Linked DNA regions of Homo sapiens: region 2 is linked to region 1. Evidence: fine-mapped expression QTL. A gene starts in region 1. The other region holds a variant in brackets. All regions are shown on one strand. Distances are between the middles of the regions. Region 1 holds the start of PLAAT4 (phospholipase A and acyltransferase 4). Region 2 overlaps PLAAT3 (phospholipase A and acyltransferase 3).

Region 1 (16,601 bases):
TGAGCCCTCAACCTGTGGGATCTGACATTATCTCCAATTAGTGTCAAAATTGAACAGAATGAGAGGACACACAGCTGATGTCTGCTGCAGAATTGATGAATGAGTAGTTGGTGGGGACAAATCACACATTTCTTGGTGAGCAGAGGTCACAGAAGACGTTTTGTTGATTATTGTTGAATGAGAGAATAGAAAAAGCACGTTGTTTTTTTTCATGCGCGTCCGTGTGAAGAGACCACCAAACAGGTTTTGTGTGAGCAATAAAGCTTTTAATCACCTGGGTGCAGGCGAGCTGAGTCCGAAAAGAGAGTCAGCAAAGGGAGATAGGGGTGGGGCCGTTTTATAAGATTTGGGTAGGTAAAGGAAAATTACAGTCAAAGGGAGTTTGTTCTCTGGCAGGCAGGAGTGGGGGTTGCAAGGTGCTCAGTTGGGGAGGTTTTTGAGCCAGGATGAGGCCAGGAAAACGACTTTCACAAGGTAATGTCATCACTTAAGGTAAGGACCGGCCATTTTCACTTCTTTTGTGGTGGAATGTCATCAGTTAAGGTGGGGCAGGGCATATTCACTTCTTTTGTGATTCTTCAGTTACTTCAGGCCATCTGGGCATATACGTGCAAGTCAGAGGGGATGCAATGCCTTGGCTTGGGCTCAGAGGCCTGACATTTTTTATTCCTACAGTCTCAGAGGAATATAGCTAAAAATGTGTTTACAGAGAAGTTTATAGTATTAGCTTATATTAGAAAAGAAGATATGTCTCAAATCAATGATCTAAGCTTTTACCTCAAGGAAGTAGGGGAGCCAGGTTTTCAGCAATTGGCCAGAAAAGAAAAAAAAAGAAGGGGGAGGAAGCATATGAAAACCAAAACAAGCAAAGAAAGAAAATGTAATAAAGATAGAAGAAGTAATAAATAAAGTAGAAAAAGAAAAAAATCAATCAGTCTAAAGCTGGTTCTTTGAGAAGATCAATAAAATTGATAAACCTCTAGCCCAGGGGGTCAGCAGAGACCCAAGTAATAAATATGTTAGGCCTCGCATGCCAGGAGGCCACACAATCTGCCACTGTAGCACAAAAGCAGCCATAGACAATACAAAAATAAATGAGAATAGCTGTATTCATGGGTCTTGTAAGACAGGCAGTGGGCCCAGTTTGGACTGGTTTGGATCTGTGTCCCATGCCAAATCTGTGTCCCATGTTTGGGCCCCACATTGTAGGGGTGGGTTGCCCCTACACACCTGTGGGTGTTTCTCATAAGGTGGGACGAGAGATTTGGAAAAGAAAAAGACACAGAGACAAAGTATAGAGAAAGAAATAAGGGGGCCCGGGGAACCAGCGTTTAGCATATGGAGGATCCCCCCAGCCTCTGAGTTCCCTTAGTATTTATTCATCATCTGTGGGTGTTTCTCAAAGAGGGGGATGTGTCAGGGTCACAAGACAATTGTGGGGAGAGGGTCAGCAGACAAACACGTGAACAAAGGTCTTTGCATCATAGACAATGTAAAGGATTAAGTGCTGTGCTTTTAGATATGCATACACATAAACATCTCAATGCTTTACAAAGCAGTATTGCTGCCCGCAGGTCCCACCTCCAGCCCTAAGGCGGTTTTTCCCTATCTCAGTAGATGGAGCATACAATCGGGTTTTATACCGAGACATTCCATTGCCCAGGGACGGGCAGGAGACAGATGCCTTCCTCTTGTCTCAACTGCAAGAGGCATTCCTTCCTCTTTTACTAATCCTCCTCAGCACAGACCCTTTACAGGTGTCGGGCTGGGGGACGGTCAGGTCTTTCCCTTCCCACGAGGCCATATTTCAGACTATCACATGGGGAGAAACCTTGGACAATACCTGGCTTTCCTAGGCAGAAGTCCCTGCGGCCTTCCGCAGTTTTTGTGTCCCTGGGTACTTGAGATTAGGGAGTGGTGATGACTCTTAAGGAGCGTGCTGCCTTCAAGCATCTGTTTAACAAAGCACATCTTGCACCGCCCTTAATCCATTCAACTCTGAGTTGACACAGCACATGTTTCAGAGAGCACGGGGTTGGGGGTAAGGTTATAGATTAACAGAATCTCAAGGCAGAAGAATTTTTCTTAGTACATAACAAAATGGAGTCTCCTATGTCTACTTCTTCCTACACAGACACAGTAACAATCTGATCTCTCTTGCTTTTCCCCACACCACATTGGAGCTTAGCCCATGAAAGAATTCAAGGATGAGCCTATGGTGAGAGAAGGCAACTTTTTTGAACCAGTACTGCTCCTTGCAGAGCAGGACTAACCCATAGGCAGCGGGCTGAGTTGGCAACATATGGGCTGTTGGCAGCTGTACTTATACCCACTTTTAATTATATGCTAATTAAGAGACGGGTTATTCAGAACTTTCTGGAAAAGGGTGGAGAGTTTCCAGAACCATCTAAGGTAACTTCCAGGCCATTACCATGGCCTATTGCAATGGTATTTGTAAACTGTCATGGCACTGGTGGGAGTGTCTTATGCTAATGAGCAGTGAGGGCAAATAGAGGTCACTTCCATCACCCTCTGCTAGTTTTGGCTGGCTTCTTCACTGCATACTGTTCTGACCACATCCTGCTCCAATCAACATGATCAACAGGGCTGCAACGAGAAAGCAAGTCCTGCCAGCCTCCTACCTCGCTACTATAGTAGGTTAGTGGAGGGGGAACATTTCCTTGTCCCAAATTCCAGCCAGAGTCTTTCTCAACATCTAAATACTGAATGCTGCCATGGCTTCAAATAAATTTGCAATGAAAAAACATATTTTTAAATGGCTTTCTATTTTGCTGCAGGAAAGGAAAACAAAATCTCGGGACCCAAACTCACTAAGCCAAAGGGAAAATTCAAGCTAGGAATTGGGTCACCCAAACCTGCCTCCCATTTTGTTCCTAAATAGATAGCTACAAAAATAAAAAGCTATATAACTCCCTAACAATTTGCTCACAAGGGAATTCTTTGTGAGCCCCAAGATCTTCACCCTAAAACAGTTCTGCTGAATGACACCCTGATGATGTAAATTGACAGCTTATCATCACAGGTATGGGAGAAAGGACAGAACTATAAGTCATCCCTCCATTCACCTGAGACAAATGCATATTTGACTGCTTATATAAAAATCCAGATTCACTAAGCATGAAATGAATGCATAATTAACTATTCCTCTACCCCCTCCTTTCACATGTAAAATGCAGATTCAGTGAATGCTGATCAAAGACTCAAAGGAATGCAACCACTTGCCTCTTTTATCTACCCTCCCTTTTTTTCCCTTTTCTCTTTCCCCTAATGCCCACACTTTTCCCTTTAAATAATGATGTCCCCAGACGCACTTTGGAAAAAGCACGAATCACAGATGTTTCCTATGGTTTTCTGTTCCTTTTTTCCTGGATGTGTCCTAAACCTTAGCTAAATAAATCTCTAAATTTTTGACTGAAAGCTGTCTCAAATATTTTTTGGGTTACAGCAGCTATTGCATCTAGATATACAATATAAATTAATGTAAAATATCATATGCTTGTAATTTCATACATGCTAGAGATATCATCCCAATCAGGGAAAGCTGCAAGAAGAAAGTGTTGGTGGTAAAGCACAACTTCCTAGATTTTTGCTGTCAGTGGGCTGGTTGGAATTTAAACTCTTTGAGTATTAAAAACAAATCAGTCTTCATAACTGATTATTTCTGCTATTATTGTTACCTATTGGAGCCTCTAGGAAAAAAAGAGGCAATAGAGAAAGAGAGGCAGTCTCCGTTGCTAATGTGCTCTTGTGGGATTAGATGTCTGATCCTTTGGAGCAGACCATCCATCCTGATGTGGGTCAGTTTGGACTCCAAGTCTGACAAAGCAGAACAGGCTTCAGAAAGCCTTGTTTGTCACTTGGAATACAGCCGTCACTCCTGCAGCATCTAAGCTTTGGTGCTGCTGAAGAAAGGCCACTGGCTGTTTTGGAGTCCTGCATTCACAGACCCCAGCTGCCTGGAACTGACTCTAAGCTAAAACCTGACACTATCTACCACAAGCTGTTTCAACCTCAGCACAAGCTGCAATGAACTGGAAGTGTAAGCAGACAGCAAGGGTTTCCAGGGATTATAGGAATTTAATCAACTCAGCAATCAGCCTTTTACAGCCTACCATCCTGTAGCCTGTTTCTTCCTAAACCTTGCATAGAATGCAGTCATGTGGTTGGTTAAAACCAGCTCCTAACAGATCCCAGCAACCTACAGATGAATCTGAGTGAACTTTCCTCATTACCATGCTAAAGTCTCCACCCCGGAGGAGCTACAGCTTCATTACCATAGCATGCAACCTATGTGTTGGCACGATGACTCACTGCATCTGTGCAACTGGGACCCCTCCTCTGCATGTGCCGATGCACCCTCTCCCCTCTCCATCACCCATAAAACCCTCCTGTCACTTTTCGTAGGGAAGACTGCTTTGGAGAATCCTCACAGTGTCCTCCTTACTTGTGCCAAGTAATAAAACTGCTATTGATCCACACCTGTGTTCTCATGAAAAGTTGTTTGTTACTAAACGAATGATCCCCGTTTTTTTTCGAGTAACAGAAGTGGGCATGTATGGTTTCTTCTGATAGCAACCAAATACATGTCATTTGTCCACATCAATCAGTCCTGCAATTCTCCAACACTGACCGCATGTTCAACAATCCGACTCAATTCCGACGCTAACTATCCAGAGTTAGGCTCAGCCTCCACAGGTAAAGTCTCCAGGCTCAGCAACAAATGGAGTTCCCTGGCTACTCACATTTCTACCTGGCTGACTACAAATGGTGGAGACCCCCTAAATCCCCTTTAAATTTGATAATTCCCTAGAACAACTTCCAAAATTTAGAAAACTGCTTTACTTATGATTGTCAGTTTATTATAAAGGATACAACTCAGCAACAGCTACATGGAAGAAACTAAGAAGAAACTAATATGGGGGGCAGTGATTGTGCACAGCTTCCATTGTTAAAGAAAAAATTATCTAATGATACAAGCTTGATATCCACTGCACTGGGATTTTGCAGCAAGAGAGAGAGATGGGGCTCAAACTTGAACACAGCACGGGCAAGTGGGAATTCATAGGCAAGGAGAAGCATACAGGTCAGTGGATGCAAAATTACAAAGAGGAAACCTCAGGGGCAAGAGAGATTCTGGTTAAACCACACTAACAGGATTCTTGCTGAAGACAGGCCGGGGTGATCAGACATCACCTGGAGGACAGTGAGAAGGATGAACCCGGTCAGATATTGAGGGTGGGAAGTTCCTGCTAAACTGACTTGGCAGGGTCCTTTGCTAAAATTAGATTTTACAAGGAAGTACAGATGTGCCTAGGAAGAGGTTTGGGAACCTGACTAAAATGTGGTCACACAGAGAATCTTTGCCACCATGCCCTCTCCAGCCAGGCCAGTCTCCCACCACATCTGTGTTCACCTGCCCCAAAGCTCTCCCAACCCCGTCATGTAGGGGTTTCTACGGAGGCTGCATAATGTAGACATTACTGATTAAATAATGGTGATCAGTCCCCAACCTGAAGTTATCCAGCTCTCCCTCCTCAACCAAGAGCCACCTCATTAGCATAAACTCAGATTTGTTTGACAGAGACTCCTTCTGAATAACATGACATCCTATCACTCAGGAAATTCCAAGGGTCTTAGGACCTCTGTGTCTGGAACTGGGGTCAAAGACCAAAAATATATTTTTTTATCATGCCACATAAGGCATAAATAAACTTTTATTATGCTACAAGGCATAAATTTATTTAAAAATAAAAATTTTTATTATGCCACAAGGCAAAAACCCAGACTCTGGGATTGTTGAATGCAGACTCTTGTGGGGGCCCCCTTAAAGAGTTTTGTGATCCTAAATATTTCAAAATGGAGTCACTTACGACAAGTGACTCAGCCCACAGTGAAACTGCTGAACCCTCAAAATGATAAACATAGGTATAAAGGACTGAGGTAATAAGATAACATCTGCTGTGGCCAGACACCCCCAAGACCTGATGAGAAACTGAAACCAAAAGGTGGCTGAGATAATGACCATGGACACTCCTGCAGAGGGCCATAAAAACAGCAAAGAAACTGACCACGGCAAGACACCTGTAGAAGCTCTGCCCGAGAAAGCTCTGAGGCTTCCTCATGATATCCACAGCGGTCCCTGGAAGCTCTGCCCAAACACAGCAACATCGTTCAACAGTGTTTTGAGTGAAACCCAGAGGCATGCTAACCTAAACAACAGAAATGGGGGTTTTTTGTTTTGTTTTGCTTTGAGACATGGTTTCACTCCAGTTGCCCAGGCTAGACTGCAGTGGAGCAATCTCAGCTGACTGCAGCCTGACTTCTGGGTTCAGGCGATCCTCCCATCTCCGCCTCCCAAGTAGCTGAGAGTACAGGCACATGCCACCATGCCCGGCTAATTTTTTTTTCTGTATTTTTAGCAGAGACGGGGTCTCGCCATGTTGGCCAGGCTGGTCTTGAACTCGTGGGCTCAAGTGATCCACCTGTCTAGGCCTCTGGTTGGGTGTGAAAATATGGCCCAGTTCTGGCCAATGGAGAAGGGAACAGGTCATCTGGGGAACTGTGGGAAAGACTTAACTCCCTGAAAAAAAGACAAATGAGAATTATCTTTCCCTCCATCTTTTGGGCATAGCCAGGTAAAAATGGGCCACTCAAGGCTGCTACAGCCATGGGAGTCCCTGCAGGGCAACAGTGCAGACCCAGGACCAGTGCAATGGAGACAGCCTGCTGAGTCCTTGGTGACCTTGGTGAGCCACTAAACCCAACCTGAGTCACCCTCTTCCTGCCTTTCTGTTACCGAGACAATGGGTGTCCAGGCTGTTGAAGCCCTTTTGAGTTTAGTTCTGCTTCTTGCACCCAAATGCATTTTAATGGGGCCATGAGCTCCCAGGCTCCACATGGTCTAAGGTACCCCTCACCTCCAGGGCATCCCCATGGAATGAAACACCCCCTCTGGCCTTCTCCCAAGACTTCTGGCCCAATATTTTCTGGGTGTCTTTACAAGACAATGTCCTATGGGGTGCACTGGGGATTGACATCTCCCTGCCTCCGAATGCCTCCCCTTCCTGGAGTAGGAAGAGCTGCCCAGGGTTCTTTTTAGAAGAGACCTTTATTTTGGCCAGGTGCGGTGGCTCACACCTGTAATCCCAGCATTTTGGGAGACCGACGGGGAGGCAGATCACAAGGTCAAGAGATCGAGACCATCCTGGCCAACATGGTGAAACCCCGTCTCTACTAAATATGGAAAAATGAGCCAGGCATGGCAGCAGGTGCCTGTAATCCCAGCTACCTGGGAGGCTGAGGCAGGAGAATCACTTGAACCCGGGAGGCAGAGGTTGCAATGAGCCGAGATCGCACCATTGCACTCCAGTCTGGGTGACAAGAGCGAAACTCTGTCTCAAAAAAACAAACAAACAAACAAACAAACAAACAAAAAAGAAAAAAAAAGAAAAGACCTTTATTTCTCAAGCAAGGGCAGAAATTCAGGGCTCCCCTTCGACTCTGGCTGCTCCCAAGGTGGCTTTAAAGCACCAATGAGTCCATGGCTTGTGTAAGAAATGATTAGTCCTTCCATCTAGAGAAATAGCTCCTTTTTAAACAGTTGTCTCTTTTAAACAGTGTTTAGTATTTAAGTGAGGTTGAAACAGTGTCAAAAGGAAAGTGAAAGTGAAATTCTCTCCTTCAGCATAAAAGCTGATCCACAAACAAGAGGAGCACCAGACCTCCTCTTGGCTTCGAGATGGCTTCGGTAAGTTTCCCAGGGCTTTGCATTACTGACTCTACAGCAGTTGGGCAGCTCCCCCTAGGAAAGGCCTCAGTCCAGGCTCCTGGCCTTGGGCACACAGCTCCAGAGCTCGTCTTTAGAAGGCTGTCATGGAAAACTGTATTTGTCTTTTAAAAGTGCATCTGCCCAGCTGGACAGGGAGTCCTCTGGGCAGAGTCCACCTCCTCTGCGTAACTGGCACAGTGCGGGGAGCCCGGGACTCCCATGTAGTAGAGAGCTGTGGGGTGCCGGGTGTCAAATCTACCTCAGCCTGAGGAGAAGCCAGAGTGTGGGCAGGTGGGGGACTCTGGGTTGTGGGAAGCAAGCAAATCCCAACATCGTCTGCTTCTGCTGTGACTGGGGCTCAGTCCCTTCTCGGCCCCAAACGATGCTTTCTCTCTCCTCGTTCCTCTGTGGCATCATCCAGCCTTCTAAGGTGCATTCTAATCTCAGCAGCTTTCTGAAAACTGAAATTTCTCCTCCTATCAGCCCAGATGTACCGATTGGCAGAAGCTCTAGGGAGAGCAGGCTGAGCTCGGTGGTGTGTGACTAAAAAGGAACAGCGGGGCTCAGGCTATTACTAGAAACAAAACCATTCCGGGAAGGAGTCCTGCAAATTCTGGAGGGCAGCCCACTCCAACAGCACCACCTGATCCTGGGGAAGGGCTTTACTGCTGCCAAAACAAATCAGGGCTTTTAACAGGGAGCCCAGGCCAAAGCTCATATCTCACTGGCCACCAGCTGAGGTTGCCAGTACCTTGACTGTGGTTTTAGACATTCAGCATTGCAGTTAAAAGCCCCTCTCTCTCCCCACATGGAAACCATCTCCTGTGGTGCCCTGACATACAGAGGAGGAGCTGGGAGGGAGTCCTGGCCCTGCTCCTTTCTCCTCCCTCTTCCTTGTCTATTTCCTTGCCCCATTCTACGCCAGGCCCTTCACTGGGTCCTGGAGGTGCAGGGAGGGAGGAGCACACAGGATCCTGCCTGCCTGGAGCTCACAGCCCAGAGGGGCACAGGGAGGCACAGGGAATTGCAGCTCAACTTGACCCCTGCAGAGAGCAGCAGAGGCCCCCGGGGACCCAGGTCCTAGGAGTGGGGTGGCGGGTCAGCTGAGCCAGGCTGGGGCCATCAGGGCAGCTTCTCAGGTGAGGGGGTTTGAGGGAGGGGAAGAGGAAGAGTGGCTGCAGGGAAGTGATGGAGGCAGGGAGAACCAGATGTGCAGAGCAGCAGAGACCAGAGCCAGGGCAGTAGTGAGGGGCTGGGATGTCACTCAGTGGGCCTGTGGGTGCAGAGCCCAGGGAGGGAGAGGAGGGTGAGGAAGGGCCAGTCAGGAAGGGCCTGGGAGCTGCCCACAGGGTGTGTCCTGGGCCCTGAGGTCAGAGGACGGTCATGGCCAGATGTGCCCTTGGGAAGGCCACCATGGGTTCTGAGGAGTTGGATATGGAGTGGCAGGGACAGGAGGCAGGGGCTGGTCAGGGGGTTGTGGGGGTCACAGAGGCAGGCATGGGGCTGCCTGAACCAAGTCAGTGGATGGGATATTGACAAGCACACCAACAAGGAGAAGCTTCCGGAGTCCACATTGATTGGTTTTAGTGACTGGATATTGGCATGAGGAAGAGGGCAAAGGAGAGCAGACCCCAGGTCTATGATGGGACATCCTGGGATGAGGGAGGAGGAGGCTGTCACCCACTGAGGACAGGGACAGAGAGGGTGAAAATGGAAAAATCCTCCAGTCATGAGGCTGCTATGCCCTGGGGCAGGACATGGAGAAGTGGGAAGGAGGTGAGGAAGGGGAAGAAGGTGGCCAAGACAGGAACCAGGGTGAGGGGTGTGCAGGGAAGAACCAGCTCGGCCTCCTTCCAGCTGAGTGTTCTCAGGAAAGCCCTGCCACCTCTCTGATCCTCAGTTTCCCCATCTGTGCAATGGGATGATCATGCCTTCCCCTGGGGCTGTGGAGATGGTGCAGTTATTGTAGGACAAGTTCCCACAGAGGCCTGTTCTGTGAGTGCAGAGCCCCCTCAGTGCTGGGAGCTGGGGGGCCCCACAAGACCCCACTCAGGTCCCAGCAGGATGCTGTGAGCTCCTGTCTCCCAGGGTGTCATCTCCAAGAGATAGGTGTCCTGAGGCTGGATGGGGCAAGGTCTGAGGAGGAGGTGGCTCTTGGGGCCATGGAGAGGCACAGGGCAGGAGTGATGAGGAACTGAGGGTCAGTCTGCAGAGGGCGGAGAGCTCAAGACTCACCTTCCCAGCCTTGCTCCTGGCCTCAGTGAAGGTGCTGGTTCATGCAGGCTCTTGAGTCGGCCTACTGAGGAGCATGTGTACAATGCACACATGCACACACATCTGCATCCTCAGCATGCACACACACAGCACACACATGTCACACATGCGCCCAGACGGTCCTTCTGTCTCCCATCCCACAAGATCATTCTCCAGGCTTCCAGCCCCCAGTGCCCCCACTGAGAAGAGCCTCTGAAAGTGACAGCAGGGCTGAGGATCTCATGGGGCTAGCAGCTGATGAACATCAGCAAGGCGTCTCCAGGATGAGCTGCAGCTCCCCCAGCCAGGGTCTCTGCTGTTGCCTAGAAGGCCGGGTACTCCATCTCTGGCTTTTCTGTTGCAGCCACACCAAGAGCCCAAACCTGGAGACCTGATTGAGATTTTCCGCCTTGGCTATGAGCACTGGGCCCTGTATATAGGAGATGGCTACGTGATCCATCTGGCTCCTCCAAGTAAGGACTGATGAATATATAATTTTCAAAATATTTGTTAAAAGGATAATGAGAGGGCCGGGCACGGTGGCTCATGCCTGTAATCCCAGCACTTTGAGAGGCCGAGGTGGGCAGATTACCTGAGGTCAGGAGTTCAAGACCAGACTGACCAACATGGAGAAACCCCATCTCTACTAAAAATACAAAATTAGCCAGGTGTGGTGGCACACACCTGTAATCCCAGCTACTCAGGAGGCTGAGGCAGGAGAATCACTTGATCCCCGGAGGCAGAGGTTGCAGTGAGCCGAGATCGTGCCATTGCACTCTAGCCTGGGCAACAAGAGCAAAACTTGATCTCAAAAAATAAAAAAATAAGTCAATGAGAGCCACTGAAAGACAGTTAAGCAAGGGAAACTTGAGTTAGGAGACACATTCTTCTTAGAGGATGCTTGATGAGATTGCACACACATATGTCCCATGAAGTAGACACAGTGCATTCCATAGGTCCTGGCAGAACGGAAGAAGAGACCGTTGCCTCCCGCAGCGAAGCTGGGCTGCTTCAGCATTGGGATCTCTCCAGCTCAAAGTCAGTTACCTTGGCATGCAGAATCTCATACGACTTAAACCAGCCAGGTTTCTTAGGTCTTAAAGAAGAAAGTTTCTCAAAAGGAACAATGTTTCTCCGTGCCAGATCCTTTGCCTCATATGTTTTCACACAACAAGGTGTCTTGATATTATATACTTAAGATTCCTTACTGGGAGCAATTCTCACAGGTTTATACATTTTTTTAAAATTCTCATACAAATACACAGTAAGCAATACCAATGTTTTATTTAACTCATTAATAACAGAAGCAGAAATATGACATACCCAGTTAAAAGCAGAATGAAGGAAACGTATGTATGGATAGCCAATGAAAGGGGAAAAAACGAACACAGAGGCCAGGCACAGTGGCTCACTCCTATAATCCCAGCACTTTGGGAGGCCAAGGCGGACGGATCACTTGAGGTCAGGAGTTCAAGACGAGCCTGGCCAACATGGTGAAACCCCGTCTCTATTAAAAATACAAAAATTAGCTGGGGGTGGTGGCAGGCATCTGTAATCCCAGCTACTCAGGAGGCTGAGGCAGGAGAATTGCTTGAACCTGGGAGACGGAGGTTGCAGTGAGCCGAGATCCTGAGACAGTGCCACTGCACTCCAGCCTAGGAGACAGAGGAAGACATTGTCTCAAAAAACAACAACAAAAATGCAGAAATGAGACAATGAGACTGCCAAATTAGGTAGGTGCAGGCAAGTTCATATCCTCTAGGGCAGTGCCACTACATAACTTCTCATGTTCTCTTTTCACCAAGCATTTACATTGTCACTGGACAAAAACCATTCCCATCACTATCAGGGCAAGACATTTGCATCTTATCAGTTTTCTCCAAGCCATCATCTCCCAGGCAGGATTGTAAAAATGTCTGAATTGATGGAAAATAGTAAATCAAGCCCACTTAATCCAGATGATCCTCAGGGACCTTGTAAGACAAAGCATGGCAATGAAGACACATGGTCCTTTTTGTGCCTAACTTGCAGTGTGTAAAGAGGCTTTTTTTTTTTTTTTAAGACAGAGTCTTGCTCTGTCACCGGGATGGAGTACAGTGGTGCAATCTCAGCTCACTGCAACCTCCGCCTCCCAGTTTCAAGCGATTCCCCTGCATCAGCCTCCCGAATAGCTGAGGCTACAGGCGCATGCCACCACAGCCAGCTAGTTTTTTGTATTTTAGTAGACATGGGGTTTCACCATGTTGGCCAGGATAGTCTCGATCTCCTGACCTCGTGATCCACCAGCCTCGGCCTCCCAAAGTGCTGGGATTACAGGCATGAGCCACCGCGCTCAGCCGTAAAGAGGCTTTTTAAAGACAATTTTTCTCTCTTTCCTTTTTTTTTTTTTTTTTCCTCTGAGACAGTGTCTTACTCTGCCATCCAGGCTGGTGTACAGTGATGTGATTACAGCTCACTGCAGTCTTTTTTTTTTTTTTGCATAAACATTCTGATTTAATAAATGGTATGAATATATATTTTGCATACTTTACAATAAAGAAAATTTTGAAAGAAAATTGATCTAAAACTGTTTCCCTCCAATTTCCATGGTAAAGTCAACTGCATACAGTTCTTTCCATGTATAAGTTTTACATTTGTATTTTCTACAATTAAATAAATCTAAATGTTAAATTTTAGCACATATATCCAATTATGTACAAAATTACAATGTCAATTTATAAGTCAAGCTTACTTAAAAATCATAAATTACAAAAAACACATTATGAATAATTTTGTTCTGGAAGTATCATACCAACTCATACGATCTAGGTGAACCCAAAAGTAAAAAACAATGATTATAAATTACAGTAGTGTCTGTAAAACCCTGTTATAAAGGAGGTATTCTTTTAAAATATGTACCTTATATATAAAAGCTCCTGACTCCTTTTAAGGACCAAAATTATTTTCAGTTTAACCATTTTCATTAAAATGCTTATTTAAAAGTATCGCCTTATAAAACTGAGTATATAAAATACAATGCAGCCCTTGATAACTAAGAATCTTTATAAATGCTAATTATTTAGTGACCTGTTTATCAAACTATTTCTGTGGATGGGGTGATTTTTTTTCTTCCTCTAAATTAAGTGGCCCTAGACTAATATATTTATATAGTTATTCTGTTTTCTTCCGTACTGTCATTTCACATCTCTATCAGTGAGTTCCTCAGGATTTGCCTTTATTTTACAACTATGAAAGTCTTCAATCCAATTCCCTGCTTCCACACATAGGACACAGAAAGCCTAAACTTTCCTTTTTTCTGGGCTCCAATGGGAAGCAGCATTTACAACGTGTCTGGCTTGGTAGGAGGAAGATTGTCAATTGAGGTATCATGTGTGTTCACCTGCCTATCTTGCCCTATTTCTTTGGTTGCTGTAAATTTCCTGCTTCTCAAATATCTGGATTTTTGGCTACCTATTTGGCTTCCGTCTTTGGTGTTTATATCTGTCTGGTTTTAGCAGGTCTCTCTGATTCCTGACTCACAGCTCCTCTCCTTCACTAATATTCAAGTGTGCTGCTTGCCTAACTCCTCATTCCTTCTCCTTGAATTTCACTTTACAATTGCACTAGGTTCTATCATCGTTGGCCACAGATTACCACAAAACATAATTTCTTAAATTCTGCACATTTCTAATGCTTCTAATCTTGGTTTCCTACAAGATCTAACACTAAGCTTGTGTTATCCTGATTACAGTGTATGTAAAACAATGCTTGTGGAAAACTAACCTAGGAGAAAGCTTATAGGGGAAACCTGATAATGAATTTTATTAAATTAATAACCCTTATAAAAATTTCAAATGTAATACTACCTGGATTTGAACTTCAATACTTTTCTTAAGTAAAATTCTTAACCACGGTAGAAGTTATGTTTGTTGATGTTCACTCATCTATACCCTCCATATTCTCAGCAAAGTTGGCATAAATCTGACCTGAATAAATAGGGTTATAACATTATCAGGCTTGTAAAATACTTTATCAAATCAATGCATCAGTTAAAGCAGGGGTCCCCAACCCTGGGCTGTGTGTGGCCTGTTAGGAATCGGGCCACACAATAGGTGAGCTGAGAGGCAGGTGAGTGAGCATTCTGCCTGAGCTCCGCCTCTTGTCAGATCAGTAGTAGCATTAGATTCTCATAGGAGTGCAAACCCCATTGGGAACTGCACATGCAAGGGATCAGGCTCACTGCAGTCTTGACCTCCCCGAGTTCAGGCCAGGTGATCCTCCCACATCAGCCTTCTGAATAGCTGAGACGAGATGATAGGCGTGTGCCACCACGCGCAGCTAATTTTTGTATTTTTTGTAGAGACAGGTCTCGCCATGTTGTCCAGGCTGGTCTCGAACTCCTGAGCTCAAGTGGTCCACCTGTTTAGGCCTCCCAAAGTGCTGGGATTACAGGCATGAGCCACTGCGCCCAGCCAACAGGATTTTCTTAAGAGGGTTCTAAATGCAAACATCAGCCTTGAGATTAGAAACGGGGCAAAAGAGGTAACACACCTAATTATTGTGTGCATTAGGTACTATCCATTTTAATAAAAATAAGATAACACCTGGAGTCACTATATAATGGAATTGGGGCTCCATTGGTTGACAGCTCTTCTGTGTTCCTCTCTATGTGCCTAGAACTGTGCCAGATTGTAGGACAGAAGACACTTTACAAAGGATTCCCTCAGGGTCAGCCCAGTGCAGTGGAAGGAGCCTGCCCTTTGGGGCTTAAGAGAAGCAGTTTCACATCCTGATTCTAGGACTTTTCATAGCACAGAAAAGTCTCATGATGTCTCTCAGCCCAATATTGGTTTTTAAATTGAGATGATAATATTTTCCTTGAAAGTTAAAAAGGAGATTAAATTAGGAAGTATGTGTAACAGCACAGCATGGTAACTGAAACAGTGGGTACTAAACGAATTGGATCTTTTTCCGAAACACAAGTGTACAAAGCTGAACAGGTAATAAATATGCTTTACCATCATTGTTTATAATGATGAAAATTTTTCCAATACCTAAATGACGGATAACAGGGGATTGGCCACAGAAGTGATGTACATGCATAGCATGGAATATGGCAGCAGCCACTGGCAATCATGACATTCACTGACTTGAACGAACATTCACACCTTATTTTATTAAAAAAAGAGAGCAAAATCTATTAGCCCGGCGTGGTGGTGGGTGCCTGTAGTCCCAGCTACTCGGGAGGGTGAGGCAGGAGAATGGCGTGTACCCAGGAGATGGAGCTTGCAGTGAGCTGAGATCGCGTCACTGCACTCCAGCCTGGGCAACAGAGTGAGACTCCATCAAAATAAAAAAAAAAAGCAAAATCTGTGAATCCTTCAATCACATTTGTGAAAGGATAAACACCAGTAGTTCCTTAGTGGAGATTTCAAGCCCTTCTCTCCCTACTTCACCTTCCCCTGCCAGTGAGAGTGCCTCTGATTGCAGGTGAGTACCCCGGGGCTGGCTCCTCCAGTGTCTTCTCAGTCCTGAGCAACAGTGCAGAGGTGAAACGGGAGCGCCTGGAAGATGTGGTGGGAGGCTGTTGCTATCGGGTCAACAACAGCTTGGACCATGAGTACCAACCACGGCCCGTGGAGGTGATCATCAGTTCTGCGAAGGAGATGGTTGGTCAGAAGATGAAGTACAGTATTGTGAGCAGGAACTGTGAGCACTTTGTCACCCAGCTGAGATATGGCAAGTCCCGCTGTAAACAGGTAAGGACCTCTCTGGATAATCCATCTCCCTCTGCTTGGGGCTGGACTCACGGGGCTGTGCAGCCAGGCGATCACTGTGAATGATGCAAATGCAGCCTCTTAGAGACCTGCTGGCTGAGAGTCAGGACCTCTGAGCTCCAATGCCAGATCTGCTTCTAATCCACAGAGGGTCTTTGGACAGTTCCCTTCCCCCCAGGCCTCTCCATGTGCAGAGGAGGGGGTGGATGGAGGAGCTCTGAGGATCCTTCCCCTCTAAAACCTATCCTGAAAATGGCTCCTGAAGTTCTGGGGGTCATCAGGAGAATCTGGGCCAACCCAGGACAATGACAGGTCCTGCAACCCCCCAAAGAGTACTCAGGCAAGGGACGCTCAGGGTCCGTGGACCTGTGTAAGAGCTCAAGGACATTTGTGTGTAAGATCTGGGCACAGCCTCCATCCCTTGCCCCTTCACAGTCTTTCACATTTGTTGCCCCAAAACACTCAACTAATAAGTGGCAGAACCGGGATTTGAACCCCAGCTGTCCCTTTCTAGAGTCTCTGCCTGTGATGCCTACTCAGGGCCCCTGGCCTGCGTGACTGAATGGTTGGGGGCCCTTGATGAGAGAGGGATGGTGGCAGGAGTAGAGGCTTTGCGGAGGGAAATCCAGAGTTTGGCGTGGCATGTGATGTCTGAGGTGCCCCATTAGAGGCCCAGGTGGAGATAAGGCATGGAGTTTAGGCTGAAGTACAGCTGGAGATGGAAGTTTCCAGGCTGCAGTTGGGAATAGTACACAGTGACCCCAGGGCACGCATATGGCCATGGCCTCCCTAAGTCTCCCCTC
Region 2 (16,601 bases), 46 kb after region 1:
CAGTGCCTGGTCCTGCCAGGCATGGAGGATGGAGGTACTCTTCACATGTTCTTAAATAAATGACTCAATTATAAATAGTAGTGATGTTATGCTTAGAATTATTAGGATATCTGACTTGTTTGTAGTAGGAAAAAAAGTGTTTCAAAAGTAAAAGTAAATGTCCAGGTAAAAATTGAATATATGTCCAATTTTACTGCCTCCTGAAACTCAACTAAAAGTAAACTAAGGCATTTGTTTAAGGCATAATTCCACAAGAATACAGAAAGCACTAAATCCTAAGGCAGCAAAGGAAAAAGATGAGGATAAACCCTAATTATATAAAAGAATACTCCAAAAGGATCACATATTAAACCCAGGTACCTCTGGAAGTGGGAAAGAATGAGAGAGAGCTTTAGCTGGTCCCTGAACCTCCTCCCTGACCCCCAAAAGAAGTCTGAACGTTTATTCTTTGCAGAGGGTACAATAGAAGGCTTAGGGGCCTAGAAACCTAGAAGCACATGTGAGAATGTGGGTATCATACCACAAACAAGGGATTGAGAGATTGTAAACATGCTAAATGTGAGACTCCCAGACCTCCTACTCCTCTGTTCCCAGAACTTTACGCTCCACACAAGAGTCCAGAAGACTTTTCTGGGGAATCTGGCCCAAATGCAAACAACAAAAGATACCAATACTGGGAATTCCCAAACAGCCCACCCAGATCATCCTGCAGTGCAACTCAGAGTCAGCAAACCACTGCCCCTACACCCACCCCCACTCACTCAGAGCTCCATCCAGTAGCAAACCCCCACTTTTTTTTTGACAGACTGAAAACTGTTCAGCACAGTATGAAAGAGGTGAGATGCTCAGCTGGGTGTGGTGGCTTACGCCTGTAATCCCAGCACTTTGGGAGGCCGAGGCAGGTGGATCACTTGAGGCCAGGAGTTCCAGACAAACCCAGCCAACATGCGAAACCCCATCTCTAAAAATCACAAAAATTAGCCAGGCCTGGTGACACGTGCCTATAGTCCCAGGTACTCAGGAGGCTGAGGCAGAAAAAAATCACTTGAACCCGGGAAGTGGAATTTGCAGTGAGCAAAGACTGCGCCATTGGGCTCCGTCCTTGGCAACACAGCAAGAATGAGGTGAGGTACTGTTTATATAAATCATAATTAAGTGATCTCAACAATACAATGATTTTACAGTATACATTAGAGGCCAGTATATATAGAGGGTAAGAGAATAGTAACAAGGAAAACATAGGTAGAAAGAATTAGCATCTCTTTCCTAACCTATGAAGTTGAATAATAAATCTTGGTCAAAATAATTTCCTGATAGTAAGACAGTGAGTATATTAAGTGTATAAAACTGAAAAACCAAAGTGATAAAATAAGAAAGGTGCCTTTACACAAGTACCACTTGACAGAAGTGTTATTTGTAATTTCTCTTGGAAAAAAAGAAATGTTTAAAATGCTTTAAGGAATCTAAAATAAAAAGAACAAATACATATTTAGCTTAACAAATTTAAGAGGAGAAATTGTATTTAGATGTTGTAATTTAAAAACCTAGGGCAACAACATTTAACAAACAGACATTGTTTTTAGGATATAATTTGTTAACTATTTTAGTTTACACTAAGTAATGTGAGTTGGTTTTCTTTGAATTCAACTGAACATGATGGTTGGCAAGTGCACTTTTTTTTTTTTTTTAATCTTTGAGATGGAGTTTGCTCTTGTTGCCCAGGCTAGAGTGCAATGGCGCAATCTTAGCTCACTGCAATCTCCACCTTCCAGTTTCAAGTGGTTCTCTTGCCTCAGCCTCCCGAGTAGCTGGGATTACAGGCACCCGCCACCACGCCCAGCTAATTTTTGTATTTTTAGTACAGATGGGGTTTCACCATATTGGCCAGGCTGCTCTCGAACTCCTGACCACTTGATCCACCAGCCTCGGCCTCCCAAAGTGCTAGGATTACAGGCGTGAGCCGCCGCACCCAGCCAGGCAAGTGTACTTTTAATCATGAGCATACAACCAACACACCAAACATCTGAAGAAGTCCTCTAAAATTGAAGACAGAGACAAAAAAAAAATAGCAATCTGGAGAAACAGAAACTATATCTAGAAAAGAAAACATCCTTTTAACAACTATAGCTTCTCAGTCTTTTGGCTAAGATCAAGTATAAAAATTACCACTGGAGAATAAGACAGCATATTGCATCCAAAAGGAAACGTCCTTTTAAAAACTATCATTAGATCGCTTCTCGGCCTCTTGGCTAAGATCGAGTGTAAAAATTATCACTGGAGAATAAGACAGCATATTGTATCCAATAAATAAGAACGTGGTACTATAAAAAATAATGCAATATTGAGAAAATAAAAACGGTTCATAGAAAATAAAAATGTGAAAAAACAACTCAACAGAAAAGTTGAAAGATAAAGCTAAGTTAAGGAAATCTCTCAAAAAGAATAGCAAAAAAATAAAGAAATAGAAACCAAAGGGAAAAAAATAAAATAAAAAACAGAACAATCCGGCTGGGTGCAGTGGCTCAAGTCTGTAATCCCAGCACTTTGGGAGGCCAAGGCAGGCAGATTGCTTGAGCTCAGGAGTTCGAGACCAGCCTGGCAACATGGTGAAACCCCATCTCTACTAAAAATACAAAAAATTAGCCAGGCATGGTGGTGCGCGCCTGTAATCCCAGCCACTTGGGAGACTGAGGCTGAAGAATTCCTTGAACCTGGAAGGCAGAGGTTGCAGTGAGCTGAGATGGTGCCACTGCACTCCAGCCTGGACAACAGAGCAAGACTCAGTCTCAAAAGAAAAAAAAAAAAGAAAAGAAATAGTGCTCTGAGTCCCATCTTAATGGATAAAAGTAGACCTACACAAAGGCACATTACTATGAAATTTTATAGCATTGGGTAAAGATATTACAACATTTAGAGCAGGGAGAAAAACAGGAAATGGAGAAAAGATCAGGAATCAGGATGGCTTCAGATTTCTCAAAGCAATTCTGGAAGCAAGAAGACAATGGAGCAGTACTGGTACCAAAACAGAGATATAGACCAATGGAACAGAACAGAGCCCTCAGAAATAATGCCACATATCTACAACTATCTGATCTTTGACAAACCTGACAAAAACAAGAAATGGGGAAAGGATTCCCTATTTAATAAATGGTGCTGGGAAAACTGGCTAGCCATATGTAGAAAGCTGAAACTGGATCCCTTCCTTACACCTTATACAAAAATTAATTCAAGATGGATTAAAGACTTACATGTTAGACCTAAAACCATAAAAACCCTAGAAGAAAACCTAGGCAATACCATTCAGGACATAGGCATGGGCAAGGACTTCATGTCTAAAACACCAAAAGCAATGGCAACGAAAGCCAAAATTGACAAATGGGATCTAATTAAACTAAAGAGCTTCTGCACAGCAAAAGAAACTACCGTCAGAGTGAACAGGCAACCTACAGAATGGGAGAAAATTTTTCCAATCTACTCATCTGACAAAGGGCTAATATCCAGAATCTACAATGAACTCAAACACATTTACAAGAAAAAAAACAAACAACCCCATCAAAAAGTGGGCGAAGGATATGAACAGACACTTCTCAAAGGAGACATTTATGCAGCCAAAAGACACATGAAAAAATGCTCATCATCACTGGCCATCAGAGAAATGCAAATCAAAACCACAATGAGATACCATCTCATACCAGTTAGAATGGCGATCATTAAAAAGTCAGGAAACAACAAGTGCTGGAGAGGATATGGAGAAATAGGAACACTTTTACACTGTTGGTGGGACTGTAAACCAGTTCAACCATTGTGGAAGTCAGTGTGGCGATTCCTCAGGGATCTAGAACTAGAAATAACACTTGACCCAGCCATCCCATTACTGGGTATATACCCAAAGGATTATAAAACATGCTGCTATAAAGACACATGCACACGTATGTTTATTGCAGCACTATTCACAATAGCAAAGACTTGGAACCAACCCAAATGTCCAATAATGATAGACTGGATTAAGAAAATGTGGCACATATACACCATGGAATACTATGCAGCCATAAAAAATGATGAATTCATGTCCTTTGTAGGGACATGGATGAAGCTGGAAACCATTATTTTCAGCAAACTATCACAAGGACAAAAACCAAACATCGCATGTTCTCACTCATAGGTGGGAATTGAACAATGAGAACACATGGACACAGGAAGGGGAACATCACACACCAGGGCCTGTTGTGGGGTGGGGGGAGGGGGGAGGGATAGCATTAGGTGATACACCTAATGTTAAATGATGAGTTAATGGGTGCAGCACACCAACATGGCACATGTATACATATGTAACAAACCTGCACGTTGTACACATGTACCCTAAAACTTAAAGTATAATAAAAAAAAAAAAAAAAAAGAAGAAGACAATGGAGCAATGCCTCCAAAACTCTGAAGTGAAACCATTTCCAACCTAGAATTCTATACCCAGACAAAGTATCAAATCAAGTGAGAGGGTAAAATGACAAATAATTCAGACACACAGGGTCTCAAAGAATTTACCTCCCATGCATCCTCTTACAGAAAGCTGCTGAAAATGGTTCCCCAAAAACAGGGGAGTAAATGGAGAAAGTAGAAGACATGAGATAGAGAAAATGGGCCTTCTACTACTAGAGAGACTGGAAGGGAATCTCCCCAGAATGACAGTAAAGGGAGATTCCAGGATAACAACTTAGTACCAGGTGTAAAGAATAACTGGTAGGCAGAATGATAAGCCCCAAAAGGTGTCCATGTCCTAATTTCAGGAATCTATAAATATATCATGCTACATGGCAAGTGAGAATTAAGCTTACAAATGGAGTTAAGGCTGCTAATCAATTTACCTTAAAATACAGAAATTATCGGCCAGGTGTGGTGGCTCACGCCTGTAATCCCAGCACTTTGGGAGGCCGAGGAGGGTGGATCACGAGGTCAGGAGTTCGAGACCAGCCTGGCCAACATGGTGAAACCCCATCTCTACTAAAAATACAAAAATTAGCCAGGCGTGGTGGCACATGCCTCTAATCCCAGCTACTTGGGAGGCTGAGGCAGGAGAATCACTTGAACCCAGGAGGCAAAGTTTGCAGTGAGCTGAGATCACGCCACTGCACTCCAGCCTGGGCAACAGAGCAAGACTGTCTCAAAAAAACAAAAACAAAAAAAAGAGGAAATTATCCTAGATTATTCAGATGGGCCCAATGTAATTACAAAGTTCCTTAAAAGGTAGAAGACAGACAGAAGAGTTAGTGTCACAATGATGCAATATAAGACTCAACCAGCCATTGCTCTAGCTTTGAAAATAGATGGGGACTATAAGCCAAGGAATGCCAGTATGTTGTGGAAAGTCGGGGACCCCAAACGGAGGACCAGCTGAAGCCACAGCAGAAGAACATAAATTGTTAAGATTTCATGGACATTTATCAGTTCCCAAAATTAATACTTTCATAACTTCTTACACCTGTCTTTACTGCAATCTCTGAACACAAATTGTGAAGATGTCATGGACATTTATCACTTCCCCAATTAATACTCTTATAATTTCTTATGCCTGTCTTTAATCTCTTAATCACGTTATCTTCGTAAGCTGAGAATGTACGTCACCTCAGGACCACTATTGTACAAACTGATTGTAAAATATGTGTGTTTGAACAATACGAAATCAGTGCACCCTGAAAAAGAACAGAATAACAGCGATTTTCAGGGAACAAGGAAAGATAACCATAAGGTCTGACTGCCTGCGGGGTCGGGCAGAATAGAGCCATATTTTTCTTCTTGCAGAAAGCCTATAGACAGATGTGTGAGTAGGAGAAATATCGCTGAATTCTTTTCCGAGCAAGGAACAACCCTGGGGAAGGAATGCATTCCTGGGGGTAGGTCTATAGACGGCCGCTCTGGGAGTGTCTGTCTGATGCAGTTGAGATAAGGACTGAAATATGCCCTGTCTCCTGCAGTACCCTCAGGCTTACTAGGATTGGGAAATTCCAGCCTGGTAAATTCTAGTCAGACTGGTTGTCTGCTCTCAAACCCTGTTTCCTGTTAAGATGTTTATCAAGACAATGCGTGCACAGCAGGACACAGACCCTCATCAGTAATTCTAATTTTGCTTTCACCTTGTGATCTTTATAGCCCTTTGAAGCATGTGATCCTTGTGACCTACTCCCTGTTTGTACGCCCTCTCCCCTTTTAAAATCCGTAATAAAAACTTGCTGATTTTGTGGCTGGGGGTTGTCATCACGGTCCTACCAATATGTGATGGCACCCCTGGAGGCCCAGCTGTAAAATTTCTCTCTTTGTACTCTTTCTCTTTATTTCTCAGCCTGGCCAACACTTACGGAAAATAGAAAAGAACCTATGTTGAAATATTAGGGACTGGTTCCCCCAATACCAGTAACCTCTAGAAGTTGGAAAAGGCAAGAAAATTGATTTTCTCCTACAGACACTAGAAAAGAATGTCAATGCTTTGATTTTAGCCCAGTGAAACTCATTTTAGACTTCTGGCCCACAGAACTGTTGATAATAAATTGTGGAGTCTTAAGCCACTAACTTTGTACTAATTTGTTACAGCAGCAATAGGAAAATAATGCACTTATCAATCCAGATTGGAGCATTGTGACTCCAGAGCCTAGCATGTTGAGGACTGCCATAACCACTATCCTCTCCCATTGTACTGTGTTTCTAACCTAAAGCAACTTCTGGAGGATGTGATCTACCTAAATAAGAGAAAGAGCAAAGAAACAGAAAACTAAGAGATCATAGAATCAGAGAATGCAATCCAAGAGAAGGAAAGGAAATCCAAAGGATGACAGCCAAGGGGAGTCCAGGATGACAGCCATGCAATTGGCCAAGGAGCAACCAGCACAGAGGGAAGAAGGGCCATCTCTGGGATAGACGTGTCCAAGCAAAATAAACAAGAACTTGTAGGTTACTTGACATGGTTTCCCTTGTGGAGAACTGTACTGAGAGCTAATTGGATCATGTGGGAAGAATTGACAACAGGTACAAAGAAAACTCGGCAATGAAAGGAAGTAATAATTATCATAAAGAAAAAAGAACTCCCTCCACTTCCCTCCCAAAACAGAAAGGAAACTATCACAATTCACCACGACACTCAGCTGTGAGTTTTCTCATCATGAGTTCTGGCTGCTGAGAAATCAGTTCTGGGCACCTTGTGTTAATTACACTGCTGTGTTTCCTGAGGTTAAACACAACTATGTGTTTCCTGACATTAAACACATTTATGGCCCAGATAAGCCTCAGTAGCATCAAGATACGTATATATTTTTAACCACTGAAGATCCCCAAACTCTTCTCAACATTGGTCACATAGAAGTTTTAACAGATAGCCAGGCACAGTAGCTCATGCTTATAATCCCAGCACTTTGGGAGGCCGAGGCAGGCGGATGATGAGGTCAGGAGTTCGAGACCAGCCTGACCAACATGGTGAAACCTCATCTCTACTAAACATACAAAAATTAGCCAGGCATGGTGGCACGCACCTGTAATCCCAGCTACTCAGAAGGCTGAGGCAGGAGAATCACTTGAACCGGGAGGCGGAGGTTGCAGTGAGCCGAGATCACACCTCTGCACTCCAGCCTGGGTGACAGAGTGAGACACCATCTCAAAAAAAAAAAGTAGTTTTAACAGACAGAATTCATGATGACCAAAGTTTGGATGGAGCTACCAACCTGAGGTTTGACTGCTGCTAAGTCTTTAAATGCTCCTCTAAAAGATAATTAGGCATGGTTTTGTGGCAGCCATGGTTCTGTTGGGTTAACTTGCTAGGGAACCTGCATAAAATCACTTGTATCCAGCATTTTCCTTGCTAAGCTCTGTGTCAGGGTAGGAGAAATAGTCTGCAGATAATGGAGGAGGAACAATATGTCCCTAGTTCTTTATAGAACCTCATGGTGT[G/A]AAAACAAAAGCTGATGCAACTGGTTCATACAAAAGATACTTTGTCAAGGAAAACAACAATAACCTCATTGTTTGTGGCCATGCTTTGTACATAGTCAAAGAGTATGATTAAACACAAGACTGTTGGAAGCTAGTTAGTCCTAATAGTGCAAACTTGATGGGAAAAACTCTCTCTCCAAGAGTCAGTGCTACCTTCAGATGCCATTGATCATTTTCATGTTGCAAGACTGAAAGGTCCAATCCAGCTGCTGTGTTGTTATTACAGGATTTCTGATCATGAAAATGGGCTACCTGGTGTGTGTCACAGGTCTTAAATCAGGATATCAGGATATTGTGAAAGAGAAAAGCTGTCTCTCATTAGAAATATTAAGAAGACTGTTTTTTTTTTAAGTGGGCAAACAAATTCTGCCAGACTACAGACATTTAGACATTTATACTACAAAGCTCTTCTGAGTTAAGCCTTGATTTAGGGAAATCTAAATCATTTCTGGAAAAAAGAAAGTGCTAATGTGCTGCCTTCACTTTCAACAATGTTATAGGTGGATTAAAGAAGAAGTGGAGATAGTAGTGTTATTCTGAAAGCAATCCAATTGAGACTGTTAGAGGTTACAATATAAGAATGGTTATGAAATAGTTGTATATTTTCCAACAGTGATCAAGTATACAAAAAATAATAAATCATTTAAAAAGAAATAAAATATTTGCATAAAAATTTGGTTTCATTTACAGTAATTTCAAAATAATACCCCACAATTTATCCAGATTTATGTAATATATGTATTGCCGCCAGACACATCTTCAATTTCTATTTACCTTAATATTTTCTCTCACTCAGACTAGACTTCATTGTGAGTATAGCTTCTGGTTGCTTTTTTTTTTTTTTTAAGTACTGTTCAGTATGAAAGTTTCTTTACAAAACCCTACTAAAATATATGTTTTTTGAAACCTAAATATTTTTAGGTAGGTGGAAAGTAGGAGAATCTTTTTTTTAGAATATTCTTAGGCATGTAAAGCACAAATTACGTTTTAGTTTAAATTCATTGTTTCCCTTCTCAGGAAATTTGATTAATCATAAACTTTTTTTTTTGTTTTTTTTTGTTTTTTTTTTTTTGAGACAGAGTCTTGCTCAGTCGCCCAGGCTGGAGTACAGTGGTGCAATCTCGGCTCACTGCAAGCTCCGCCTCCTGGGTTCACGCCATTCTCCTGCCTCAGCCTCCCAAGTAGCTGCGACTACAGGCCACCACGCCCAGCTAATTTTGTTTTGTATTTATAGTAGAGACGGGGTTTCACCAGGTTAGCCAGGATGGTCTTGATCTCCTGACCTCGTGATCCACCTGCCTTGGCCTCCCAAAGTGCTGGGATTACAGGCGTGAGCCACCGCACCTGGCCATAAATATTCTTTTGAAGGAAAATCTAGTCTGCTTCAAAGAGCTCAGCACAAATATAATGACTGGTCAGATTCTTTAAAACACACAAAAATATCCTCATGAGTTAAATGAAAAGGAGAGTCACTGCACTGACAGTGCTTACAAAGAAAAATACTGGTGGACATTTTCTGATATGTACTAAATCTATCATCTCTAGCAAGATGGGGCATGCATCGAAGTTCTTTTTTTTTTTTTTTGAGATGGAGTTTTGCTCTTGTTGCCCAGCCTGGAGTGCAATGGCGCAATCTTGGCTCACTGCAACCTCCACCTCCCGGGTTCAAGCAATTCTGCCTCAGCCTCCCGAGTAGCCGGGACTACCGGTGCACACCACCACGCCCAGCTAATTTTTGTATTTTTAGTAGAAACGGGGTTTCACCATGTTGGCCAGTATGGTCTCGATCTCTTGACCTCATGATCTGCCCGCCTCGGCCTCTCAAAGTGCTGGGATTACAGGCATGAGCCACTGCGCCCGGCCAGAAGTTCTATGTTAATTTGACTCACAGCATGTGTCAGTGATCATTACTCACCTAAGTCACTAGTTCTCAACTGGAGACAGTTTTTCCCTGTGGGGGGAATTGTCTACAGACGTTTTTGGTTCTTACATCTGGCGGTGGGATGCTACTGGTATCTAGTGTGTAGAGGCCAGGGATGCTGCTAAGCATCCTACAGTGCACAGGACAGGACTTGACAATGAAGAATTATCTGGCCCATAATGTCAATAGTGCTGAGGCTGAGAAACCCCTATCCTAGACCAAGAAATGAAAGAGGAAATCTTTAGAAGCAGTAGAGATGGCACCTCTGTTTTTGTTGTAGAATATTCTGGCTTCATTTTCTGTGATGGGATCAAGTAGAATTGTTCATGCTGTTTCACTGTTGTGTTATCATTGTTTTGCCTCTTTCAAGTGAATGGGTAGATGGGTAGGGCCAAAGTCCCAGGAAGAAAAGTGTGATGTGTTCAATTTGCATTGTTTCATTTTGCAAGTGTTAAATTATTGTTTACAAAAAGAATAATGGTATAAGACATTTCTTAGTTATTTTACTATCTCAAGATTTGGAATTTTATTTAATTACTCCAAATAGCATTTATGGCCAGGCGCAGTGGCTCACATCTATAATTCCAGCACTTTGGGAGACTGAGGCAGGAGGGTTGCTAGAGACCAAGAGTTTAAGACCAGCCCAGACAACAAAGTGAGACCCTGTCTCTACAAAAAATACAAAAATCAGCCAGGCATGGTGATGTGCACCCATAGTCTCAGCTACTTGGGTGTGTGTGTGTGTGTGTGTGCACGTGTATGTGTGTGTTTGAGAAGGAGTCTCGCTCTGTTGCCCAGGCTGGAGTACACTGGCGCAATCTTGGCTCACTGCAACCTCCACCTCCAGGGTTCAAGCGATTCTCCTGCCTCAGCCTCCTGAGTAGTTGGGACTGCAGGTGCCCGCCATCACACCCAGCTAATTTTTGTATTTTTAGTAGAGACGGGGTTTCACCATGTTGGCCAGGGTGGTCTCAAACTCCTCACCTTAGGTGATCCACCCACCCCAGCCTCCCAAAGTGCTGGGATTACAGGCGTGAGCCACCACGCCCGGCCAGCCCCGTTCTTTATTCTGTTAATAACTGCTGAAAGAATAACTAAATGAGATGATTAGGATATATTTTGTAAACCTACCAAATATTCTTAACGTAGAACTCTGAATTTCAAAAAGTATCTTATTGCTTCCCAAGGTTGTCTTGTACTCTGTATTTGGAGTTTATTGCTGCATAGGAGCATGAGTTTTACCAAGAGTAAGTAAACACCTTGATAGTGATGCAAGATCACCAATGATGAAACTCAATTTGTTATCATGTTTGTCTTTCTTATGCTAATATTGTCACTGCTAATTCAAAAAAAAAAAACTTCTATTATACCTAAATCTGTCAATAAATGTTCATTTTCAAATTTAAAAAGATACATAAATGGGCCAGGCACAGTGGCTCACGCCTGTAATCTTAGCACTTTGGGAGGCAGAAACAGGCAGATCACTTGCAGTCAGGAGTTCCAGACCAGCCTGGCCGATATGGGGAAACCACATCTCTAATAAAAATACAAAAATTACCCAGGTGTGGTGGCACATGCCTTTATTCCCAGCCACTCTGGAGGCTGAGGCAGAAGAATCACTTGAACCCAGGAGGCAGAGGTTACAGCGAGCCAACATCGCACCACTGTGCTCTAGCCTGGGTGACGAAACAAGACTCTGTCTTAATAAATAAAAAGATACATAAATAAAAAACAAGAGAGAGAAGATAAGAAAATCAGCAAAGCAGTCTAGGGATCCAATAGCCTAATAATAGGAGTGCCAGAGAATACAAACTGGAAAATTTCCAAGAACTAAAGAAAGTGAGTTTCCAAGTACCTGGCACAATACATGAAAATAGACCCGTGCAAGGTAATAAATTTCAGAACACTGAGGATGAAGAGAAGATTCTATACAGTTCTGAAAAGAAAAAATAGATCACATACAAACAATAAAAAATCAGAACAGCTTCAGACTTCTCTACCACAATAACAAAAGCTAGATGACAATAAACCAATGCCTTCAAAATTCTGAAAAAAAAAATATTATTTCTAACCTAGAATTCTATACCCAGCCAAATGATTAATCAAATGTGAGGATAAAATAAAGATATTTTCAGGCATGCAAGATCTTTTTTTGTTTGTTTTTTGTTTCTTGGGTCTTTTTTTTTTTTTTTCTGACCAAGTCTCACTCTGTCACCCAGGCTGGAGTACAGTGGCGTGATCTCGGCTCACTGCAACCTCTGCCTCCTGGGTCCAAGCAATTCTCGTGCCTCAGCCTCACCAGTAGCTGGGATTACAGGCGCATGTCACCATGCCTGCCTAGGGATCTTTTTAAAATGTACCATTTCTCAGTAAACTATTAGGGGAAGTAGTCTACCAAAACAAGGGCATAAACCAAAAAAGAGAAGGATGTGAACTACAGAGGATAAAAGCATTAATATAGCAGGGAACTGAAAGAAATTTCTAGGATGCTAGTAAAGAGAGATACCAAGATGACAGCAATGCCTCATCAAGTGTGACAAGAGACAAATGTGGCCGGGCACAGTGGCTTATGCCTGTAATCCTAGCACTTTGGGAGGCTGAGGCGTTAGGATCATTTGAGCTCAGGAGTTCAAGACCAGCCTTGGCAACAGAGTGAGACCTCATCTCTATTAAAATAAAAAACAATAAAATAAAAAAAATTTTTTTTGAGACTGGGTCTTGCTCTGTCACCTAGGCTGGAGTGCAGTGGTGTGATCTCGGCTCACTGCAACCTCTGCCTCCCGGATTCAAGTGATTCTCTTGCCTCAGCCTCCTGAGTAGCTGAGATTACAGATGCCCAGCACCATGCCCGGCTAATTTTTGTATTTTTAGTAGAGATGGGGTTTCACCATGTTGGCCAGGCTGGTCTCAAACTCCTGACCGCAAGTGGTCTGCCCGCCTTAGTCTCCCAAAGTGCTGGGATTACAGGTGCGAGCCACTGTGCCCGGCCTAAAATAAAATTGTTTTAAGAAAAGAAAAACAAGACACAAATGTTTTGAAGGCTGTTATCCCCAAGAGATAGATGTAGTAAGTGCCACCATCCCCTGGTCTCCTGCTTTCTTTCACTGCATCACCTTTTTAACCTGACAATATTCAGGCACTAATGAAGTTCTTCTCATGGCCCTGCCCACTGATTCCCCAGAAGAAAGCTCTTATCAACTCTCAGGGAAGTTGAAGCCAGACCATGACCAACAGACTGCAATCTTCACAAACATTGGCAATATTGCCCTTTCTTTACCTAGTTAGCTATGTACCACCTACTCAATTTCTAAGTTGATCACCTTTAACATTCATATATAAATAGTTGTTGAACATGAATAACCCAACTGATCGAAGAAAAAAATAAGAGGATACCCATTCAAAGGTAACTAATATCCCACTGTAGACAGGTATAGGAACCGCCTAACAAACATGAGGGTTGGTGTAGTAAGCACAGCTGGTTATCAGCAGTATGAAGAGAGTAAGAGTGATTCCTATAGGTGGTGTTAGTCAGTGTCTTCCCATTCAAGTGGCTGTGGCCCACAGAGGCCAGGGGACCAGGCAATGGATGAGCCAAGCAAAAAAAAAAAAAAAAAAAAAGAGGAGGATAATTTAAAAAAAAAAAATGAGGATAATCATGACTATTTTTACTACTACAATGTATTCAGTGTGCTAAGAATAAACATGCTCTTATTTAATTCACAAGGTAATCCTCCAAGATGAGTATTATCATTCGTACTTTACCAAAGTGTAGGGAGCTGGACTAACTCTCCTGAGGTCAGACAGCCGGCAAAAGGCAGAGACCAGGTCCAGCCCACGTTGGCCTGACTCCAGGAGCCCAGGCTCTTAACCACCACACTGACCAGGGAAGAAGAAATTGGATCTCAAAAAAAATAATAATAAAAGTGAACAGCCTGATGGATCTTAAGCTAATCATTCACTGAAAAAAATATGTATTCTTTTGCATCAACAGCCATGTAAGAACCTTCCCAATGTTCTTTTCACCTATGCAAAGAAAAAAAAAAAAAAAAAGATGGAAGTGGCTGAAAGGGAGGGGGAAGAAGTGCAAGGAAATGAGAAGAGAAAAAGAGATTGAAAGGAGAGGAAAGACAAAAATAAAATCAAGTAAATGAACAAAACTGCATCCCCTAGGGTCTCCCAGATTCACCCTTAGGGTTCAGCCAGGCTGAAGACAGTGCTGTTTATAAGCACGATCAGGCTATGCCACACAGACCTGGGCTTCAAATCCCAACTCTGCTAATTATCTGCACAGGAAAAGACAGGTACCAGGTCTGGAGACTCAACAAAGATTTTTTTGATGAAATGAATGGCTGTAGACAAGTTACTTAAGCTCAGTTTCCCAATCTGTAAGGTAGTGGGTCCTAAAACCTGCCTTTAGGGCTGGGGAGGGCCATCTCAGGGACAGGTGGCCAGGGAGGGCTTGGCAATGGGAATGATCATCATGTCTGTGACTCCTTTCCTTGGCCACCCACCCCCGCCCCCGACTACACTGATCTGCATTGCCAACTTGCCTCTCTCCCCACCCTTGTCCCCACCCTTGTCCCAACTGTGACATCCTCAAGGGCAGTAATTCTGTCTCTGCTATTTTGTCTTGTTCATGCCTCCATAGCCATGCCCAGCCTCCGTCAGCAGAGGGAATGGTCTGGTTCCTGGGGAAGGCGACACAGGCAGAGGACGCACCTGGTCACTGCGGGCGACTCCATAGCGCAGCTCATTCACAAAGTGCTCGCAGTTCTCACTGGTCAGCTTGTAGAGCACCTCCTGCCCCACCAGCTCCTCCGCCCGCTGGATGATTTTGCTGCAGGGCAGCGGCGAGTACTTGTCATCATGTTTGTTGTTGACCTGGTACTTGTCACTCCCGGCCACATCATACAGCAATTCCTTCTTCACGATGGCCTTGTCAGTCAGGGCGGACATGACACTGGCTGCACCAGCTCCTGCGACCTCACCTGCAGATCCACAAAGAGGAAACAGAGGGATTGGTCCTGGGAAGGGCCACGGAGGCTCAGAGCTGGCCCCCAGCCGGGCATCTGCCCTTGGCTCATCCACAAAGGATAAGCAACAAGTGGAAGGGTCAGACGCATGGCTGTGGGCCTTGGGGAAGGTGTGTGTGGTCTCTGGGCCCTGGTTTCCTTATCTAAAATGAAAGGGAGTGAAGTTCCATGATTTACTGTGATTTTTTTCTTACTCTAGAGAAGGTGGTCTTCTATACCTCATGACACTTAAGTGGCCCCCTTGGTTATGCAAATATGAGCCAAGAGCATACTCATCCACCTGGGAAGATAAGGTGGGAGACTTTTATGATGGCATCAGGGCTACACCTACTTGACCACACAAAGCTGCTTACTGCAGAAAACATGGCTGGGTTTTCCAGAGTCCCAGCCCTTCTGGAAACAGACCCACCAAAACGCACAGCTGTCCCCCTAGCTGTGATGGATGCTAAGGAGGCTTAGTGGGTACATGGGCACAGCCCAGGCCAAGGCCCAGGGCAAGGAAGGGCCACAAAGCTCCAGAAATGAAATGATCTTGAAGACAAGGAGTCCAGGTTCAACATGAAGACCAGGATGGTGGACAGGGAAAGCTGATGCCAACACAGACTGGGCATTCCTCCCAACTCAAACAACCTGTGTGGCGCAGGGAGAGGCAGGCACTGAGTATGATGATTGAAAAAGTGGGGATGGGCTGGGCACAGTGGCTCATACCTGTAATCCCAGCACTTTGGGAGGCCAAGGCAGGCAGATCGCTTAAGCCCAGGAGTTTCAGACAAGCCTGGGCAACATGGCAAAACTCCGTCTCTACAAAAAATACAAAAACTAGCCGTGTATGGTGGTGTGCACCTGTGATCCCAGCTACTCAGGAGGCTGAGGCAGGAGGATCACTTGAGCCCTGGAGGTTTAGGTTGCAGTCAGCTGAGATTGCGCCGCTGCACTCCGACCTGGACAACAGAGTGAGATCTTGCCTTAGGAAAAAAAGAAAAAGAAAAAGTAGGTATGCACTCAAGGGATGGGCCTACGCACCCAGGGAGCATGTCAAAGGAGGTTCACTCTCACTCTCCTCAAACAGCCACTGTGACCCTGTCAGGGTCAAGGCCCCCAGGGTGCCACAGCAGCACCCTGTTAAACTGGGTAGGACCAGTCTTCAACAATGACATCCGTGTGACAGCAACAGCAGGAGAGGCCGATTAGATTTCAGGTCCTGCTCTTCTCCGCTTTCCAAAGACCAATAAACCTTTTCAGCCTGCATGCAATGCCTACATGCAATGCCAAGATATTAGAAATTTAGGGAATTCAGACTTGATAGGAAAAGGGCACGTGAAGCTTGGAAGATTCATTGAAGTAAATAAAAGAGAGGGTGCCTTATTGGAGCCCTGCGTTTGTCGGGAGGATGAGCTCCTGGGGCCCACCCAGCCTCAGCTCCCAGGCAAAGTGGGTGACAGCGCAGGGACTCGGAAGAGGCAAGCAAGTTGCCTAGAGCCCAAAGTTTAAGGAGGCACCAAATCTCAGGGCCATGCAAGTGCAGAGTCAACAACCAAGAGTGAGGACTTCCTTAAACTTATATCTAGATGCCACCCAGGACAGGGGTACCCTGTGCTCAAGCTGGCGGTGAGAAGCTCTGGGTTCGACCCCAGCACATCACCAACCAGCTGAGTGGTCTGGACCTGTCACTTCACTTTGCT

What was found.
Region 2: its variant is fine-mapped to the expression of PLAAT4 in whole blood (TOPMed, PIP 0.98).

Annotation. Positions count from the first base shown.
Region 1 is chr11:63,529,110-63,545,710 of GRCh38, forward strand. PLAAT4 (phospholipase A and acyltransferase 4) reads left to right here and starts at 7,699. Exons shown (of 4, transcript NM_004585.5): 1 at 7,699-7,768; 2 at 10,407-10,515; 3 at 15,512-15,780. The coding sequence starts at 7,760. RefSeq lists enhancers at 158-817, 2,368-2,662, 2,804-3,463, 5,851-5,940, 7,598-7,647 and 1 more.
Region 2 is chr11:63,575,495-63,592,095 of GRCh38, forward strand. PLAAT3 (phospholipase A and acyltransferase 3) reads right to left here. Exons shown (of 5, transcript NM_001128203.2): 4 at 14,606-14,874. LOC105369335 (a long non-coding RNA gene) reads left to right here. Exons shown (of 3, transcript XR_950179.3): 2 at 11,074-11,133; 3 at 14,535-14,596. Among named protein-coding and RNA genes, the nearest start is that of PLAAT2, 20 kb to the left of the region's middle. The variant G/A (reference allele first, on the strand shown) is at 7,927.